Linked DNA regions of Homo sapiens: regions 1, 2 and 3 are each linked to region 4. The links come from fine-mapping of genetic effects on gene expression. A gene starts in region 4. Each other region holds a variant in brackets. All regions are shown on one strand. Distances are from middle to middle. Region 1 has its middle 14 kb from the start of SAT1. Region 2 overlaps ZFX (zinc finger protein X-linked). Region 3 has its middle 72 kb from the start of ZFX. Region 4 holds the start of ZFX (zinc finger protein X-linked).

Region 1 (5,199 bases), 350 kb after region 4:
ATCTCTACCAAGAAAGCAGTCTTCAAACTGACTTGCTGAGGAGCTTCTTTCTTTGTGAAACTTGAAATAAAACCCCAGTACATGCTCCTACCTAAGTAATCTGAGAAGGGGTCTCAACTCTCTGGGAACTCTTCCCTTGAGAGCTGTACATTCCTGAATTATTCTTTGGTTTGGTGCCCAGAGGTTTTTACACCTTGGGGGTAGCACCCTCTGCTAAGATTCAGGGTAGGTTAGGGGTACACCTTTCTTTAGTAAGGTGGGAGAAGGGCATTCATTTATTTATTTTAGGGACAGGGGTTTCACTGTGTTGCCCAGGCTGGTCTCAAACTCCTGGGCTCAAGCAATCCACCCACCTCCTCCTCCCAAAGTGTTAAGAGTACAGCCGAGGCCAGGCACGGTGGCTCACCCCTATAATCCCAGCAGTTTGGGAGGCCAAGGCAGGTGGATCACCTGAGGTCAGGAGTTCGAGACCAGCCTGGCCAACATGGTGAAACCTCATCTCTACCAAAAATACAAAAATCAGCAGGTGGTGGTGGCAAGCACCTGTAATCCCAGCTACTCAGGAGGCTGAGGTAGGAGAATCACTTGAACCTGGGAAGTGAAGGTTGTAGTGAGTCGAGATTGCACCACTGCACTCCAGGCTGGGCAACAGAGCGGGACTCTGTCTCAAAAATAAATAAATAAAAAGAGTGCAGCTGTGAACCACCCCATCTTGCCAGGAAGGGCATTTATGAAAGAGGAGAGAGGCAAGAGGAGCCAAGTGTGACCTCCTATTATTATTATTTTAATTTTTTTTCTTTTTTAGAGACAAGCTCTCACTCTATTGCCCAGGCTGGTCTCAAACTCCTGGGTTCAAGGGATCCTCCCGCCTTGGCCTCCCCAAGTGCTGGGATTACAGGTATAAGCCACTGCGCCCAGCCCAAGTGTGACCTCTTAACCTCAGGAGCATTTTCAGGTAGACCATTTCTGGAAAGAGTATATATAGAAGTTGAGGTTTGGAACCCAAGTTCCTTAAAACTCAGTACCTTGGAATCCTCTTGTATACCTCAAGCAACAAATGTTTCCCAGTTTGATGGCCCTAAACTAGATGTCTCTCTCCTATATGCTTGGGGCAGAGGCTTATATAAATGACCTAGAGAGTAACTTATCAGAGATGATGTCAAGTGATTATTCTGAAGGCCCTTGGAGCAGCATCCTTCTACATCTTTTCTAATTTCCCCAAAGTCCGCTCTTCTCAGTTCCAGAGAGATCATATGGTGCCCATTAAAAATAGTCTTTAGAGACTGGGCGCGGTGGCTCATGCCTGTAATCCCAGCACTTTGGGAGGCCGAGGGGTGGGGGCGTGGATCACCTCAGGTCGGGAGTTCGAGACCAGCCTGGCCAACATGGAGAAACCCCGTCTTTACTAAAAATAGAAAATTAGCCAGGTGTGGTGGCGCATGCCTGTAATCCCAGCTACTTGGGAGGCTGAGGCAGGAGAATCGCTTGAACCCAGGAGGCGGAGGTTGCGGTGCGCTGAGATTGCGCCACTGCACTCCAGCCTGGGCAACAAGAGCGAAATGCCATCTCAAAAAAAAAAAAAAAAAAGAAAAGTCTCTAGAAGGCAGGCCTTGATTGAGTAGACTTGAAAGAAACAAGCTGTTCTGAATCTGTCCCCTAGGGGTTGGAGCATAAGAAACCTAAGGGTTTGTTTTCAAAGGTAATTCTAGAAAAGTTATCATCTGAATCAAGACTTGTGTATATTTCATTAGAAGAAAGGCATATTCTTTAAAAGAATACTTTTGGTTTTGGCTTTTATCACTTGCAAATGTCAACTTTAAATTCTCACTTCTTCTCTTGGTCCAAATGTTATGGAAATGTCATTCTTTCCTACAAGTCATTACCAGGAAATACTTAGGTCTTAAAAGGTACCTTGGGCTTTTCCCCACTGAGTTGTAGTTAGAAAGAATAATAAACATCATGAAATTCAAACCTAGGACAATATACCCGGAAAAATACTAACACAATAACCTGGGCTGCAAAACTTGTTTAGCAAGTTTCAACTGGAGGTTAATTAAAATCGGCTTGGAAACCTCTTAAAATACAGACTGGCATGTAAACCACACACACGCAGCACCACCTAGATTCTTCCCTCAGGAGCTTTCTCCTCTCCACTTCCCTGGATTTCTGTGGGAACGTTTCCCCAGAATTCCATCCGGTCTGGCGGAGACCATGGTGCCCCTGAGCATAACACAAGCCTTTTTCTCCCATCTCAGGGGAGGACCAAGAGGACGGTGGATAGACAGGCCCCTCCTTCGCAGTTCTAACAAACAGTACCCCGACATTCAGCTCCTTAAGCCTTTGAGCCCTTTTGGAAAGTGGGGTGGTATTGGAGTGGGGGGGTCAGGGCGAATGGAGGATTGAAAGAATTTCCCCCAGTGTTACATGTTTTTGGCCAGGCACAGTGGCTCATGCCTGTAATCCCAGCACCTTGGGAGGCTGAGGCAGGTGGATCACTTGAGGCCAGGAGTTTGAGACCATCCTGGCCAACATGGTGAGACTTAGACTTCATCTTTACAAAAATTAGTCAGGTGTGGTAGCATGTGCCTGTAATCCCAGCTACTCCAGAGGCTGAGGTGGGAGGATCACTTGAGCCTGGGAGCTCAAGGCTGCAGTAACCTGTGATTGTGCCACTGCACTCTAGCCTGGGCGACAGAACAAGACCCTGTCTCAAAAAAAAAGAAAAAAAAAACAGAGGAGTTTAAGTGACAGTGTTCTGGACAGGACAAGAGAGCGTGAAGAGGTCAAAGGCAGAAC[A/C]GGAGAAGGTAGAAATGCCGCCTGACATTGGACTTGCCCGTAAGAGGCTATTGAACTGGCCAAACATTCTCAGACCTTAGCTGTGTATTTCTTCCGAAGTTCCTCAGGTTACCGCTATTATTCCTTTTGTCTGGGCTTGTTTGGAATGATTGTCAGCTAACACTCCGTTGGTGGATAAGCATCTGTGAGATGTGCAGGAAACAAGGCCGAGTATAATTATAACATAATTCTATAACAACATTGCCCAAGACTGCCTCAGTACTATATGCCAGAGTACATCATGACTATCTTGCTGACAGGCATTTGGATGGCGATTAGTGTTGGATCCCGTCTGGGAATCAGGCTTGAAGCCAGAGAAACTGGAAAATGATTTTTGTCTTTTAACTCCTTGGAGGCCTGTGTGGAAAATTCAGGAGAGCACATTTTTGTTTCTAGCAACAGAACTCAAACGTAATTTGGCCAGGCATGGTGGCTCATGCCTGTAATCCCAGCATTTTGGGAGGCCAAGGCAGGTTGGGTCACTTGAGGCCAGGAGTTCGAGACCAGCCTGACCAACATGGAGAAACCCCATCTCTACTAAAAATACAAAATTAGCCGGGCGAGGTGGTGCATGCCTGTAATCCCAGCTACTCCGGAGGCTGAGGCAGGAGAATGGCTTGAACCCGGGAGGCGGAGGTTGCCATGAGCCGAGATTGCGCCATTGCACTCCAGCCTGGGCAACAAGAGCGAAACTCCGTCTCAAACACTTGCCTTGCCTCAAATCTGCTGTGGAGGCCAAGGGAAATCTTTCCCTTCGCCTTCTGACGGTTCACTGGAATATCAACTGACAAAAGGCAGATTAGTAGAAGAAATGGCATACAAATTTATCAATGTTCACGGAGGGAAATCACAGAGTGATTACTGCAACCCATCCTCCAGGGGGTACAGAGGTTTATATACCATCTTGAGGTTACAGAAAGAATGGGGCTTGGTAGCTGGGTGTGGTGGCGGGCACCTGTAATCCCAGCTACTCGGGAGACTGAGGCAGGAGAATCGCTTGAACCTGGGAGGTGGAGGCTGCAGTGAGCCGAGATCACGCCACTGCACTCCAGCCTGGCGACAGAGCTAGACTCCGTCTCAAAATAAAATTAATAAATAAAAATAAAAGAATGGGGCTTGGATCCTGGCAAAACAGGTTGGAGGAGAAGTCCTCTTCTAACCTGTTTAGGGGGAGAAGAGGAGGCCTGGCTAGCAAAGTGGGTCTTGTTATGTAGATCAAACCTCACAAGTGGTAGCCCTTTTTCAGGCCTCCAAAGGCCTCCAAAGGCGTCAGACTCTCAGTCAATCTTTCCTAGATCCGGACAAGGGAGGGCCTCCGAGAAAGCAGGGCTGCATCAATGCGGATTTTCTCTACACATACAAAGCTCCACAAAAGGCAGCTTTGCAGCTATTCTCGTATTTCCAGCCCTTCTGAATAGCCATCTTGAAATACGTCAAAGAAGTATGTTTTGGGGTGAAACATGTTGGCTTCCTTCACTGGTCTTTTGTGGAAGTGTCGAATTTTCTTGCAGAGCTGGCAGAGACGTGTTGAGACAGGGAACAGTGGACAGGAAGACTGCATTCTCCCTGTTCCTCGACACCGAATCTAAGCACAGGCAAGACCTTTTCCAGGTTTCAAAGAAACAGTCTTAGCCCTAAAGCACCACCAGTGTTTAATGAGGAAACACTACCATGAATGGTTAGTGAGACTAGACCATGAGTTGTAGTTCGTGAGGTATATGTGCAACCCGGCTACCCAGTTCAGATCTCAATCCTGTTGCCTCCTGGTTGTATGACATAAAATAAATTGATTTGTGCTGGGCATGGTGGCTCACGCCCTTAATCCCAGCACTTTGGGAGGCCGAGGCCAGTGGATCACTTGAGCCCAGGAGTTTAAGACCAGCCTGGGCAACATGGCAAGACCCGTCTCTGCCAAAAAAATACAAAAATTAGCCAGGAGTTTGGTGGCATGCACTTGTGGTTTCAGCTACTCAGGAGACTAAGGTGAGAAGATTAATTGAGCCTGGGAGGTTGAGGCTGCAGTGAGCTGCGATCACACCACTGCATTGCAGCCTGGGTGAGAGAACAAGACCCTGTCTCAATAAAATAAAATGCAATAAAATAAGATGGGCCTGATCCAGTGGTGTGCTGCAACCTGCTCCTTCTGGCTTGGGAGAACCTATTGTTAAATATTCAGGAATTTTGTCAGCCAGTTGCTAAAACCTTTGGTACACCCTTAGCGGATGTATTCACACCATGGAAATCAGCCAGTTCTACAAATCAAGGATACCCCACCTCCAGCTGACTTACTAGCATACCACTGGAATACCCTACAATATTGTTATGGGCATTCATGAAATAAAACCACAATGTCTGGCACATAGT
Region 2 (5,199 bases), 65 kb before region 4:
AACATGCAAGGCTAATGGCGAAACCTCACATGTTGCTAGTGTGCTAATGTCAGAGGGCAATCCAGAATTGGACTAACCTTTATTAGGATGATGTAAGGGAACTCTCCCCCTTTTCCTGTGTTCTAGCCTGGGAGGGCTGGAGTAGATGCTCCCTTTCTCTGATGACAGAACTAGTCTCCTGATAGCTCACAAAGGAGTGGAAGGTAGGCCCCATGCCTTCAAATGACTGGCTGCATCAGTCAAGGCCTACATTGGAGGGAAAGAGATTGGAAACAGACTCATCTCAGCCTCTGGGTCTCCCAATCCAGCCTTACTAGAATAAATCGCACACTTAATTGGTGGTTTCTTGTCTATCTTCAATGTGGTTAGAACTCAAGAGGGGAGGACAGGTGACTAGAACCTTCAAAACCCCAACAGATGGCTTTGCAATACCCCTCCTATTTCAAAGAATCTCAGACAAAAGGAAATGGGTTCTGCATTTAAAAGCAGAAACTGGCCTCTTAGAAAGCAAAATAATATAGGTCTAGTTAACTATTCTATACTTTTAGTCAATGTGTTTAGATACTTCTGTGGTAGTTCAGAGCCAAACAACATCTAGAAGTCCTGAGCAGGTTTTTAGTAGCCAAGTCTCCTAGTGGCTTTACAGTCTCGACAGGTCACTGTAATGCCAGATCCTTTGTGTCCACCAATACCAGCAATACAAGTAACATGAGAGACCAATTGAATAGGAAAAACCAAGTAAAGGAAAGTAATTCTTGATTTTGACCTCAAACTTCATGGAGTGAGTACTTCCATCACAGAGGTCAAAACATGATTTTGAAATCCAAGTCGGTACAGATGCTATGCCTATATGCACCAGTGACATGTTCCTTGGTGCTATTATTAGTGTTGAACCACTGAAGGGAGTCGAATCACCTCCAGCTTCAAACAAGTTGGGAATTCATTAACTGTGTGATTTAAGTCTCCTCGTTTCGAGTATATACCTTGTCTATAGCCAACACTCCACTAGGGTAACTTAAAACAAAATAGTAATTTATTTACAATAGCAAAGATGTCAAAAATAACAGGAACAATATATAACAAATCCAAGATTTTTATGAAAAAGGCAAACAGTATATACACGAAACAAAAGATGAAACAAAATCCATAGGGTAAACTTAATTTGACCTTAGCTAAACAGTTACAGAATGTGGCAAAATGGTTATGATTTATTTAAGTAACCCTGGGCCAATTAAACACACACACACACACACACAATCTTTTTCAACCCTTCTCTTTTAAATGCTGAATCTTCCTCTCAACTCAGTTTACCTTTGAAGAATGTAACCATGGGAGGCCACACGAGATTTAGGAAGTGCAGGCTATTTACATGTGCGCTAAAGGCATACTTGTTGACTTGGCAGGCTCACACTTTTAAAACAGCAAATGGAAGGTATAAACTGTCTGGGGTCCTATTTTTCTCTCACTGTTCATTTCTGATTTTTTGTGATAATTTCTTTCTTATCTACCACACAAAATGCTGAACCAGTCATCTTTTAGGTTCCTCAAGTGCTCTAAAAGTGTTTCCCAAGTTTGAACAGGCATCAGAATCACTTGGAGAACATGTTAAAACAAAGACTGCTGGGTCCCACGCCAGTTTCCCAATTCAGTAGGACTAGGGTGGGGCTGAGAATTTGCATTTTTAACAAAGTCCCAGGAGATTAAGATGCTGCCAATGCTGTCCGGCCATACTTTGAAAACCACTGCTCTGAAAGATTGCCCCTTTAAGATATTGATTAGCCATGTTTTTCCTTACATGAATGCTAGAATTTGTGGGAAATGAAATTATTAATACTGAGATTCCCAGAGAATACAAATACAGCAGCATGTTATCGGACTTGTTGGATCACAGACAGGTTAGGTGTCATTTGTTGGGTGTTCCATTACAAAAGTTTTTCAGCATGCTATGTATGGTTTTGTCTGATTTATGGCTCTGGACAGTGACATTCACCACATTCCCTTCGTCATTTACCTAAAATTTTAATTTATTGTTTCAACTATTAGGCAAACGTTTGTTCATACAGTTGGAAGAACTGCAGAATCTTGTCTATAAAATCAAAGATGGCACAACTCT[A/C]TCTCTTTTGACTCCTGACATTTACTTAACTGCCGATTTTTAACTGTGGCAATGACCATTCCCTAGTATGTTAGCATCTACTAGTCCTCTAAACTGGGCGCAGTGGGGTAACTCGAGGGCATGATTTCTGTTGTGGAGGTGGTAACAGTCCCCACTGATTAAATATGCTGTAAATTAATACTGAAATGAACTTTAAGTGCTCTCAAAAACCACTTTATGCATGAGTAATTTATCTCAGGGGAATTGGAGATGCTAATAAAACAAATCCTTTATGAAGATAAAAGAAAAAATGAATTCCAAGGACATGCTCATCAAAGGACTCACCAATCACCTCTTAACTTCTCTGAAATATTACTTGCAAATTCACAGAACTGAAATATTACCAGTATTTGCATCCGAGTCACAAAATTCAAAGCAATCAAGCACTTTGCATTCCACTGCTGTGAAAAAGAAATTAAGAAATGGGGGGATGAAAATAATCCACTGCTTTTGATGTTTATTAGGTTTACAAAAACTGTACATTTTTTTTCCTTGAGAAAAAGCATTAACTTAGTACTGGTATCAAATAGACTAAACATTCAATAACAGGAAAATATTCTGATTTTTATTTTTGCACGTTATTCTCAAGTACACAATTACAATAATGTCACACATCCCTATATGATTTTCTTTTTATGTATTTTACTTTCTTTACAAAGTGTACAGAGGGAGGGACATACAATATTTAATAGGATATTTCTACAGAACAATAACTTATATTATGTCCTTGTAAAAATCTGTACCTCTTTAAAACATTTAACTGAAACATCCATTTTTTTTTAGCTTTGCTAATCAAAATTGTTTTAAGAATTAAAACTAGGTTGTAACTAATGTCAGTACATAACAGTGACTACAATTTCATTTTCTCTTTATACAGACAAGTATGTTTTATCATATTCACTTGACCAAACCCTTAAATACCTTTTAAAGGTTTTAATGTTGTGCTTTAAAAAGAACTGTGTATGATTCCGGAGTATGTAAGAGAAATATAAAATGTGTGAAGTGTTGTGTTCTTTATCTTTCAGTTTATTTAAAAAAATATAGTTAAATGACCCAATCATTTATATTTTCTGTATTAATTTTATAGGATTTAAAATTAATACATTTCCACTTTCATTTAAGTGTTTTTACATTATTTCTGGGAAAATAAAAATTAAGGGAGATTTTAAAGGTTCTCACAAAAAAACAGACAGAGCTTTCAAGAATCGCAGGGCAATGAATCACGGATCACAAAATTGTAAGTTAGTTTAAAAAAAAAAAAAAAAAAAAAACACATTATGGGGGCCAAGAAGGTACAGGAATTTCCTATAAGATAGGCTAGGAAAACCCATGCCTTGACTTTGACTGGCATTTGGGCTGGAGTTCACACCTGCCTAAAGCACTTGGTTTAAAACTAGACTAAATCAGTCTAGCACTTCAGAGGTTTGCCAAACACCAAATATTTTGATTTCTAACCCTAAAAATATAACTCTTGAATACAAACATCAATGGCAAAGAGAAAGATGAAAGGTAAAAACCTAAGCACACAGGGGATGGAGCACCATAATGAGGTGACAAGGCAGCTATCGGGTGGGAAGACAATTTCTAAATCTCCTACAATGTGCTAGATGCATACGGACCAATAGCCAACTGAAGGGACCCCAAAAACTGTTTTCTGTTCTCCCAGATTCGTCTTAACATAACCAAGTTCTAATTAACCGAGTTTGTTTTATGAATGTATGACACTGATTCAGACCTATGTGGTGTCTGGGCACGGTGGCTCACGCCTGTAAACCCAGCACTATGGAAGGCCGAGGCAGGTGGATCACGAGGTCAGGGTTCAAGACCAGCCTGGCCAAGATGGTGAAACCCCATCTCTATTAAAAATACAAAAAATTAGCCGGGCGTGGTGGTGGGCGCCTGTAATCCCAGCTACTCGAGAGGCTGAGGCAGATAATTGCTTGAACCCAGGAAGCAGAGGTTGCAGTGAGCTGCAGAGGTTGCAGTGATCACACCACTGCAGTCCAGCCTGGGCAACAGAGCAAGACTCCGTCTTAAGAAAAAAAAACAACAAAAAAAAACAAACAAACAAAAAACCTGTGGAAGACTTAGTGATGTTCCAAATAAGGCCTCAGACTTTCCTTATCCACTTAAAACACATCTTTACCTTTTAATCAAAGCCAACTTGAGTGTTAAGTTTTTAAAGTTTGCTAACTGTAACTGAGAAATAACAGATCAGCCTGAACTTGCCGAGTGTGAAGTCATAATTAGCACCCGTTCTCTGGTCCACAGAGCCATCACTTCTTTTCCATCCCCCTCACTAGGTAAGACAGAGTTCCCTCTCAGGCTTCTCAAAGAGAACTGTGGGAGTCATGTCTGGATACTCATTTGCTTTTCAGAAAAACATAAAGACATGGAGGTGAAATTGTATGAAAACATTCTACCTAGAAACATCTTAACCTCTATGTTTCAATTACCAAAGATATTTAAAAGAAAATATCTTTACTCTTTAAAAATACTAGTGTCCTTATTTTCCTTCTAATTCTTCACCTGAGTAGTCTCTCTGAAGAGCATGACTTACAAAATGCTCTCTCATGCATCCCTGGATCTTTCATGTTATTGTAAATTTAATACTTTTCATTATAGATTTTAAACAACTACTACTTGGGGTTGTGTGTATAAATATGTAAAATAAGCAATACACACAGGTACATGATATATATGTGTATATATATAATTCAGGGTACATTTACATACATAAAGTTGCAAAAGATCCTATAAGCCATGAGTTACCTCTAGGAGATTCCAAAATGCAGTCCTCAGTAAGTGTCATTTGTAGCACACAACCATTCCAAGATGAAGCCGCACAGACAGAATAATCAAAATACAACATGAGCAAGCACAGTTTTTCAATAAGGTTTTCTAAAAGTTTGCTACGCTGACAAAAGATGTAAATAATCCAAAGAAAGCCAAAAGAAGTATATTTGAAAAGTAAACACGAACCCAGCCACTGCTCTTTACTCAGCAAAGCCAGGGACGCAACAGCTCAAATGGAAACTTTCACTGTC
Region 3 (5,199 bases), 72 kb before region 4:
CTGTAATCCCAGCACTTTGGGAGGCTGAGGCGGGTAGATCACTTAAGGCCAGGAGTTCGAGACCAGCCTGGCCAACATGATAAAACCCTGTCTCTACTAAAAACACAAAAATTAGCTGGGGGTGGCGGTGCGTGCCTGTAGTCCCAGCTACTCGGGAGGCTGAGGAAGGAGAATCACTTGAACCCGGGAAGTGGAGGTTGCAGTGAGCTGAGATTACACCACTGCACTCTGGCCTGGGGGACAGAGTGAGACTCCATCCTCCCCCGCCCCTGCAAAAAAAGTTATGGGGCACAGTTACAGAGAAAGACAAATGACAAATGGAACAAAACAGAGATCCTAGAAGCAGATCCACTTACACAGGAATATTTTATATATCATGGAGCTGGCTCTGCAAATTAGTGGGCAAGTATTGATTTTTTCAATAAAGAGTTGAACTGTATGAAGTTGAAGTTGAAAAACGTTAAAGTGAATGCTTAACTCACACTATAATCCACATCGAATCCGTTTCAGGATAAAGACATAAGTATGAAAAGTCAAACTACAGAGCTTTAAAAAACTAATATCAGAGAATAACCTCATTACTATCAGGAAGGATTTCTTAAGACACATAAAGCATTAATCATAAGGAAAAGATACCAATTTTACCAGGTTATAATGATGAACTTAAGTTAATCAAAAGACACAATAGAGTAAAATGGCAAGCCACAGACCAAGAGAAGATATTTACAGAGATTTTAAAATTACATGTATGGCCAGGTGTGGTGGCTCATACCTGTACAGCACTTTGGGAGGCCAAGGCAAGAGGATCACTTGAGCCCAGGAGTCTGAGACCAGCCGGGGCAACACGGCAAAACCCCATCTCTACCAAAAAAGAAAAAAATAGAAAAATTAGCCAGGCGTAGTGGCATGCACCTGTGGTCCCAGCTACTCGGGAGGCTGAGGTGGGAGGGGTGGTTGAGCCCAGGAGGTAGATGTTGCAGTGAGCCAAGATTGCGTCACCGCACTCCATCCAGCCTGGGCGACAGAGCAAGGCCCTGACTCAAAAACTAACTAACTAAATAAATAAAATTACATATAACTGACAAAGGACTAATATCAAGACTATATAAAGGGGCCAGGCATGGTGGCTCACACCTGTGATCCCAGCTCTTTGATTGAGCCCAGGAGTTCGAGATCAGCCTGGGCAACATAGTGAGACCTTGTCTCTTAAAATAGATGATAGATAGATAGATAGATAGATAGATAGATAGATAGATAGAGATATAGATGTTTATGGATCAACAAGAAAAATGTAAGTGATCCAATAGAAATGGGCCATTCATAGAAAATAGGCCAAAAAAAAAACCAATATAGGCTTGTCACAAAAGAGGAAATGTGAATAACCAATAAATATGTGAAAAGATGCTCAATATTATTCATAATTAGGGATATGTTCATTAAAATCTCAATATAATATTCTTTTACATGCACAAAATTGGCAAAACTTAAAAGTGTGCCAATATTACCGTGTTCTCATTGCTGCACATCCTCACCAAAACTCAATATTTTCCAATTTTGCTGTGAAGAGTGTAAATTGGTCCATTTTGAAACAAAGCTTAGGACTGCACATGTGAACAAAAGTTCTCTGGAAAGGAATTTGGAGGAAAGATACTTTATTTCAGTGCATGGTTTGCAAACTAGGGAGAGGAAGGCTTCCCTGTAAAACAAAGGTGTTTTCCAGAGAACAAAAACAGGGTTACGGTCTCATAGCAAAAGTTCTCGACCAAGTTCCCAATCTGGTCTGTTCATGCAAATAAAGGACTGAAACTTAGTTTTGATTGGTCAGTGAAGCTGAGTTCTGATTGGTTGATACAGCTGAGCCCTGATTGACTGAGGCAGGTATGCTCTGATTAGTTGATTCAGGTGAGTTCTGGAGTCCCAAAGTTGAACAGAGGTGTGGATTTAGGGGGAATTCAGAGGATATGGGTGACCTCTAGTCAGCAAATGGCTGCTTGGCTCTGTTTTATTTTTACAGTTTTTTTCCTTTTTTTTTTTTTTTTTTCCTATACCAGTTGGTTCACATCTATTTTAAATTTAGGCCCAGTTAGCCACTGGGGATCCGTCTTGAATGATTGGCTCTCTCAGGTTCACATTTGTTCACACATGTTAAATTTGAATAAGATCAGGAATGACATTCAGGGACAGTGGTGATGTCTGCTACAACAATGCTCTCATTCTTGCTCATTTAACAAAATGTGTAACGTATAGGGAAAGGAAGAGATGGAGAACTCTTATTCAGCACTGTGTACCTAGCATTAAGACTTTTTTACATGCTTCTTTATTTAAAGTTGAGGCAAAGAAGGTACTCAGAATGCTGTTATTCTATGAAAGGAAATTTCTGGCTGAAGTTCCTTCTACTAGGGAGAAATAAATCAAGAGCACTGTTACTCCATCAGGACAGGTTGCACATTTACAGACTATCACTCTCTTGCTTCTTTTTTTCTTTTTTTTCTTTTTTTCTTTCAGCAATCCCACCACTGGGGACATACCTTCTCTCTTCAAGAGACATCCCTTTCAAACATTTAAATTTTTCGGTACAATAATGATCACACGCTGGGGCACGGGATTAAAGGGATTCTTTCTTCTTGGTGCCATTTTATGATGACAAGACAAATCCAGGAGATGTTATATGTGAAAAATAGGAATTCCCGAAGAAGCAAAATGCCAGTATGATAAGTAATAATTACACACAAGATGTAAGAAAACTTCTTTAGCTGAAGAGAGACTTAACAGAAAG[AAAGG/G]AATCAGCAAATAACAAATCCCAGATGTGATTAGAAGTACACACAAACACACACGTGCACACACACACCCCTAGATAGATTCTAGTGACCTTTCTGAGTTCCAAAGACAAAGGAAAATTCATATGAACTTCAGGAAACAAAGGAAGAGGCATTGGAGTTCTCATAACACTAAAGTTGGAAAACAATGAAACATCTATAAACTGTGAAAGAAAAGAGACTGTGAACAGAAGTTTATACCTACTAAGATCATTTGTCAAGGCAAAAATAGATGTTTTGGGGTAGTCAAGGTTTTAGAAAGAATATACACCCACATACCAAATATGAAGGAACAAACGAAGTATACATCAACCAAATGAAAATTTATTCAGCACAGAGATGTCAAATGGGGAAAGATGAAATGGACAAGAAACAGCAGTAGCCAAAAATTCTGCAGTGTACACTTATGTCTAATAAATTATGATAACAGAATTTGTAATATAAGACATAAGAAAGGATTGAAATAGAAAACACATATCAAAGTAGAGTTCAAGACCAAATACGTTAAAGAGGACAAAAATATCCTGTAAAAGGTACAATCATAAATAAGATCTGTCAAACATCTATGAAACAAAAATCGATAGAAACCAATTATATAAAGCAAAACTTTAAGTACAAGGAAACTCCATAAAACTCCCTTATAGTGAGATATTTTGATATTTTTTCAAAAATTAAAAATCAAATAGTCGCCAGGCACGGTGACCCATGCCTGTAATCCCAGAACTTTGGGAGGTTTAGGTGGGAGGCTCGCTTTAGCCCAGGAGTTTGAGACCAGCCTAGGCAACACAGCGAGAACCTGTCTCAGAAAAAAACAAACAAAAAAACTCAAGTAGTCAAAAAATAGCAAGGATATAGGATATAAAGGATCTGAATAATCAACAAGCTCAGTTTTATCTATAAGTTTATACCTATAAATGTAAAGATGTTATACTATATCTGTGTTGTATTTTCAAAAAAATTATGTCTTGCCGAAAAGGAAAACTTCAAAAATTCCAAAAAAAAATGTAGAGGTTATACAGGCCATACTTTGAACTCAGACCAACAAAACTAGAGATCAAGGCTAAAGGGATTAATAAAAATGTTTACTACTTGAAAGTTAAACTCTACTTAAATAGGAAATCAAAACAGATGTAAAACTATCTAGAATACAAAAAAGGACAATTCATATACAATGGCCTATAGCTAAAGTTGTATACCAAAGGAAATACACAGGTTTCAAGGATTTCCTTTAAAAATAAATGAAAATTAATGAAATACAAAACATCAGACATTTTAATTAGATAGTAAAATATACCAGAAGAAAATAGGAAAAGAAAATAGGCCAGGCAGGGTGGCTCACACCTGTAATCCTAACACTTTGGGAGGGGGAGGCAGGTGGATAGCTTGAGTTCAGGAGTTTGAGACCACCCTGGGCAACATGACAAGACACTGTCTCTACCAAAAAAATACAAAAATTAGCTGGGCATGGTGGTGCGTGCCTGTGGTCCCAGCTACTCGGGAGGCTAAGGTGGGAGGATCACTTGAGCCCAGGAGGTCGAGGCTGCAGTGAGCTGTGATCACACTACTGCACTCTAGCCTTGGCAACAGAGTGAGACCTTGTCTCAAAAAAAAAAAAAAAAAAAAGAGAGAAAAAAAAAGTAACAACGAAAGATAAAATTAAGTAGAAAACCAAAAAATATAAACAAAAGAGCAGTTTCTTTGACACCACCTATGAAATAGCAAAACCTCTGAAAGCCACTTAAAGAAATATGAGCCAGGCACAGTGGCTCACACCTGTAATCCCAGCACTTTGGGAGGCTGAGGCAGGCGGATCACCTGAGGTCAGGAGTTCGAGACCAGCCCGGCCAACATGGTAAATCATCATCTCTACTAAAAACACAAAAATCAGCCAGGCATGTTGGCGTGTGCCTGTAATCCCAGCTACTCTGGAGGCTGAGGCAGGAGAATCTCTTGAACCCGGGAGGCAGAGGTTGCAGTGAGCTGAGATTACACCACTGCACTCCAGCCTGGGCGACAGAGCAAGACTCCGACTCAAAAAAAAAAAAAAAGAAATATGACAGAAAACAAAACATATAACATTTAAGATGAGGAAGGAGATGCAACCAGAAATGCGAGAGAATGAGATTATTAAATAGTAAGAAAATATTGTATCTCTATGGCAATAAACTGCAAATCTAGAAGAGTGGTTCACATCTTGGCTGCACATTGTAATCACCTGAGGAACTTGAAAAATTACTGTCTGAGACCCATTCCCACCGGGCTCTGGGAAGTTCAAAGGCTGCCCCGTGTAATTCTATGACCGAAATCGAGAACCACTGAATTCTTCCAGGGCTTGGACCACGTGGTCCATGGACCACAGCGTCAATATCACCAGGGAGCTTGC
Region 4 (5,199 bases):
AGCCTGGCCAACATGAAACCCTGTCTCTACTAAAAATACAAAAATTAACCAGGCATGGTGGCAGGGTCCTGTAGTCCCAGCTACTCGGGAGGCTGAGGCAGGAGAATTACTTGAACCCGGGAGGCAGAGGTTGCAATGAGCCAAGATCACACCACTGCACTCCAGCCTGGGCGACAGAGTGAGATTCAGTCTCAAAAAAAAAAAAAAATTACCACGGGAATACTCATTTCTCATTTTCGTCAAATAACCCACAGCACTAGTCCTGTACTTTTCAACCATGGTAAATGAAATGTTAGAAACCCCTCCCTATTTGTGTACCATAGAAATTCTGACAACTCTGAGCAAAAGATTATTTCGGATGAGAAATCAGGATAGAAAAAAGGAGCAGCTGTCTTAATAGAGACGCATCGTTCCAAAAGTAGCAAAATTTGCTTAACTTCTGAACATTCTTGTAATCGTTCTGATAATGAAAACACTGATCAACTTACTACTCTCATTATTTTTCAACTTTGAAACTTTTCCTAGTCCAATGGAACTACTAAGTACCGTAAAGCACAGCTCAGGGAACAGACGGCAGTGACAGGCGGGCAGTGGGAGGCGGGAGAACGGCTTGAGCCCAGGAGTTCGAGACCAGCCTGGGGCAATATAGCAAGAACCTGTCTCAAAATAAAAAATAAGTAAATAACAAGGTGCAGCTCAGGTGTGCCATCACTCTTCTAGTTGAGGGCACCCCCGCTGCCTACCCCATTGAGTATAAGCCCCTCCACCTGGCAAGCAAGCCCTTCTGCAATCTAACTTTTCTAGCCTGAATTCCCACCACTCCCCTACCTATACCATCCACTTTTGCCAAACTGTAAATACTTACTGTTTACTGAAGAAGCTTCACCCTTGAAACGTCCTTTCTCCACCTCCACCTCTACCTAACAAAGTCCTACCCATCCCTCGGTAACCTTCTCAAAATGCCACCTATTAATACTTCAGGAACCCGTCCCTCCCTGATCCTCCAATGGCAACCTTGCTTCCCTCGGAAATCCCAGTAATTAGTTGTACCTCTCACTTTACTGCATTTCACCTTGCCCCACCTACCTCTAAACATGAGACTTCTTGCAGCCACCGTCTGCATTACAAGAACCTTTTTAATGTTTCTTAGCATCTAGCACGGTGCATCGCTAACAGTAGGCTCCGAGTTTATCAAGAAAGTTGCACAGTGTGCAATCAAAAAAGTACGTTAGGGGATGAAACTCCGCCTTAAAACTTCACAAATGAAAAATCGAAATACCATGACAGGCAAATGCACAATAAATATGCACCACACTAAGTTGTCCTCCAATAAGAAAATAAAAAAGTCTGCCCTTATTCCTCGATTTAAAAAAATACCACCAACAGATCACTACTTAAATCGTTTTTCAAGAAAGTTGTTTCCACATAAATGAGTACGAATGATTCAAAATTTTATTCCTCCGCTCTCGTGTTGTGCAATTTTTTTCCCTATAGGACAAAAGAATGGCAAAAACTTTCCCATCAATCTTTATTTTTCTTCCTTTATTCAGATACTCGGGGCGGCAAAGATTGTTGGAAAAACAACTGCATCGAAAGCACCTTAGCAGCCACATATGATTTGACTTAAGCAAAAATAACATTTCCTGGGGTCCCGTATGCCCTGGTAAGCCCAGGTGTCCGGAATGCCACCTGCCCCGACTGCCCTCGGGTGGCTACAGGCGCGGGGGAAGGCGCAGGGCCAGGGGCGCTGAGGGTGAAACGGTCCCGGCGTCCGGGCGGCGGCGGTGGCCGCCTGCGGCAGCTCAGCTGAAACGCAGCGGAAACTGCAGCCAGTCACGGGGCTGCGGGAGGCAAGGCAGGAAGGTGGCGCTGCCGCCGAGCGCCTGGAGCCCGAGCGCTCATCATGGCGGCAAGGGCAATGGCCGCCACGGGGAGCGAGCACGCCCCTCCGCGCGCACACGCCGCCGCGCCGGGCCTCCGGGGCCCGTCACCGGCGCCGCTGCCGCCGCCGCCCGCTCTCCCACCCCCCCTCACGGGCTGTAGCGGAATTTTCTCTCCAGACACCGCCTCCAAGATGGCGGCTCCCCCTCCCGGCAACCCCCTCTATCGTCCCCTGCAGCAGGCGCCGAGCCGCCGCCATCTTGTCCCCCGTCCCTCCCCCCCCCTCACCGATATTTACATAGCGAAAATCGGCCCGGCCGGCCTGCGGCCTTCACCTCACGCCTGCAGCCTTCGCCTCCTCGCCAGGCCTCACCCCGGCGCGGTGCCCCAGGTCGGCCGCGGAGCCGACCCGGGGCCCCTCGACCGCCTCCGGCACAACCGGGCGACCCTCCCCCAACCCCCGCCCGCTTACGGAGCGCGCCTCCGCCGCCGCTCGGGGCAGCCGGGCTCCTCCCCGGGCCTAACTGCGGCCTCCTCGGGGCCTGCTCGGCGCCGCGCGCCACGCCGCCCGGCCTAGCGCGGGAGGGCGCCTTGCGGGCCGCCGACCAGGCCGAGACCAGGCCGCTGTGCGCGCACTAGGCCCCGCGGCCGCGGCGGCACCCGGGACTCACCGGACGGACGTGCGGGCGGCCGGCGACGGTGGCGGGTGCTGCAGGCCGGCCTTTCTCTGGAGCACTGGGCCGGGCTCCGGCTGGTGGGGCGGGCGGAGGGAGGGAGGAGGGGCCGAGCTCGGAGCTGACAAAAAGCGGCCCAGCTCCCCGGCACGGGCCCGCCGTCAGCACGTCACGTCACCGCCCGGGAGAGAGACCCAGGAAAATGCGGAAGGGTAGACAGGCCCCCTCCTCCGCCCGGTGGGTCCTCCTGGCACCCCGTGTCGGCGCCGCTCCCGCCCCGCGACCGGGGAGCCCAGTGGCCTCGCTGCGGCGGGGTCTCCGGCGGCCGGAGTCTCCGTGACAGCGCCCCCCTTCTTTCCACCTCCTCCGCGCTCCCGCCCGCCGCCGCCACACACGCGCCGCTGCCGCCGCCGCCTCGGCCGTAAAGCCCGCGCGGGGCCGCGGTCGGCCGACCCCGCGGAGAGGCAGGCGGCCCGGCCGCCCCCCACCATGTCCCGTGGGCCGCGGCCGCCCCCCGGGGGCCTCCCTGGAGACCTACCGCCTCTCGCGCCGGTCCTGGCCGAGGCTCCAGCTCGAGTTGTTTGCAGGCCCTCAGACCCCCGCCCGCAGTAAATGTGTTTTCTTCATCCCCGTGGCTGGGGAGGAAGATAAATTTAGCAACCCCCGCCGTCCCCTGCCTTCGCTTAAAAAAAAAAAATCTTTGAAATAAAATGAAAACGGGCTTGCCAGTCTAAATGGGTGTGCGGGAAGGGGGGTGGAGTGGGGGGAGAAGGGTTATCCCTAGAGCACCTACCAGGCCGTCTACTTTTTAAAAATAAGCAGTCAGAGCCAAACTGATTTTATTAGTTTGTACGGGGGAGGGAGATGAGCAAAGTTGCATTTTGAAACGTTTCGCACGTTGCAAAGAACAGGAATTTTCTGTGTATTTTCCTATGTACCCGTGTTTCAGAGCTTGGGAGCCTGTGAAATGTAAGACTGGTGTCATCGTTTCATAAATCATGAATTTTCCACATTCCTTAATAGAGAGGAGCCCAATTGGGTATGGATTTTTTTTTTTTTAAACACACTGCTTAAACAAGCCTTTTGAAGTTTCAAAAGACTTGGGAGAGAAGGGGAAAATGATTAAACAGCACTTACCAACTTCAAAAATGTGTATTTCGCACTTTACTTAGTTTAAATGTTTATGCTATCTTTCCATGCTGAACTTGGAACCCAAACTCTGTTTTAAAGTTACTAGGGAAAAGTTAAATAGTGGAGTCTTTACATTAATCTGGAATCTGGCATGCTATCCTTTAACACAGCACTAAATGTTAAAGGCATTTTTAAACAATAAGAAACACAAAAATTATAAAGCAAATAGTATACTGGTGTGAAATCTCTTTAAATACAGAGGCCACGTATTTTAGTTGCCTGACATAACTCTTTAAAACTCCCAGAATGCAATTTGTCCCTTCCCTCAGACATCTCTCAATCACAAATGCTTTCAAAAAGGAAAAACAAAAGTAGAGTAAGAAGAAATCTCTGAGCATGCACTGGATGATAATTTTCCTCTCGGGGCTTTAGTCTGAATTTTTCCAAGCGATTAAATTTCCTTTCAAAAATAGTAACAGCATGTATTCATTGTTTATAAAAATTACATCAGGCTGTGATAGACTTTCACAGAAAGACATTTCACAGAAAGGTAAATGAAACTAAGCAATGTTGTTTCAATAAAAAAAAATGAGAAATAGCTTGTGTGCCCACATTAATATTTCTTGCACTCCCAGACTGGAGTGCAATGGCGTGATCTTGGCTCACTGAACCTCTGCCTTCGGGGTTCAAGCGATTCTCCTGCCTCAGCCTCCCGAGTAGCTGGGATTACAGGCACTTGCCACCACGCCTGGCTAATTTTTCTATTTTTTTAGTAGAGATGGGGTTTCACCATGTTGGCCAGGCTGGTCTCCAACTCCTGACCTCAGGTAATCCACCCGCCTCGGCCTCCCAAAGTGCTGGGATTACAGGCGTGAGCCACCGTGCCCGGCCGCCCACATTAATATTTCAAAACATTGATAATCAGCGTTTAAGTACTTTCCAAGGGCCTCAGTGTGATGCTACGGTATGGCAAGAATGGAGGCCAGGTTCCCTGGTTCAGTCCTGTAATCACAGCACTTTGGGAGGCCGAGGCGAGAGGATCACTTGAGCCCAGGAGTTCAAGACTAGCCTGGGTAACATGGTGAGACCTCGTCTCTATTAAAAAAAAAAAAAAAGAAGAAGAATAGAGCCTCACTTCATCCATGCAACTGTAAGCAGCATGTTCAAGACAGAAAAACCTAATGTCACCATTCTTGTTAGTTTTTCCATAATTACCATCAAAAATACTTATACATCCACCAGTGTAAAGCACTTAAGAAAACAGTGTCCAAGGAGCATGAAAGAAAAAGAAGTTTTCTCAGTTTAAAAGATCACAAGTAGTTTAGGGATTGATACTTTCAAAGAGCCCTTTGTCATTACTTTTCATACAGGAAGAGACTGTTAACTTTGGTGGGAAACAAAGAAAGGATGGCCTAGTTCTATTAGATTAGATAAACCTTTATTAAAGTCCAGCAAACTTTATAAAGTCCAGTTATTTTATAGATGACTATACAGATAAGGTCAACTATATTTT

Evidence for each region.
Region 1: its variant is fine-mapped to the expression of ZFX in fibroblasts (GTEx, PIP 0.97).
Region 2: its variant is fine-mapped to the expression of ZFX in blood mononuclear cells (TOPMed, PIP above 0.99).
Region 3: its variant is fine-mapped to the expression of ZFX in whole blood (TOPMed, PIP above 0.99).

The regions. Positions count from the first base shown.
Region 1 is chrX:23,794,391-23,799,589 of GRCh38, reverse strand. No RefSeq gene overlaps it. Among named protein-coding and RNA genes, the nearest start is that of SAT1, 14 kb to the right of the region's middle. The variant A/C (reference allele first, on the strand shown) is at 2,797.
Region 2 is chrX:24,211,902-24,217,100 of GRCh38, reverse strand. ZFX (zinc finger protein X-linked) reads right to left here. Exons shown (of 10, transcript NM_003410.4): 10 at 846-5,199. Among named protein-coding and RNA genes, the nearest start is that of ZFX, 65 kb to the right of the region's middle. The variant A/C (reference allele first, on the strand shown) is at 2,114.
Region 3 is chrX:24,219,519-24,224,717 of GRCh38, reverse strand. No RefSeq gene overlaps it. Among named protein-coding and RNA genes, the nearest start is that of ZFX, 72 kb to the right of the region's middle. The variant AAAGG/G (reference allele first, on the strand shown) is at 2,777.
Region 4 is chrX:24,147,148-24,152,346 of GRCh38, reverse strand. It overlaps ZFX (zinc finger protein X-linked), which reads right to left and starts at 2,618. Exons shown (of 10, transcript NM_003410.4): 1 at 2,553-2,618; 2 at 547-656. It overlaps ZFX-AS1 (ZFX antisense RNA 1), which reads left to right and starts at 2,693. Exons shown (of 3, transcript NR_046657.1): 1 at 2,693-2,792; 2 at 3,505-3,594. RefSeq lists silencers at 1,612-2,121, 2,172-2,221, 2,242-2,651, 2,712-3,071 and enhancers at 2,162-2,975, 3,182-3,281.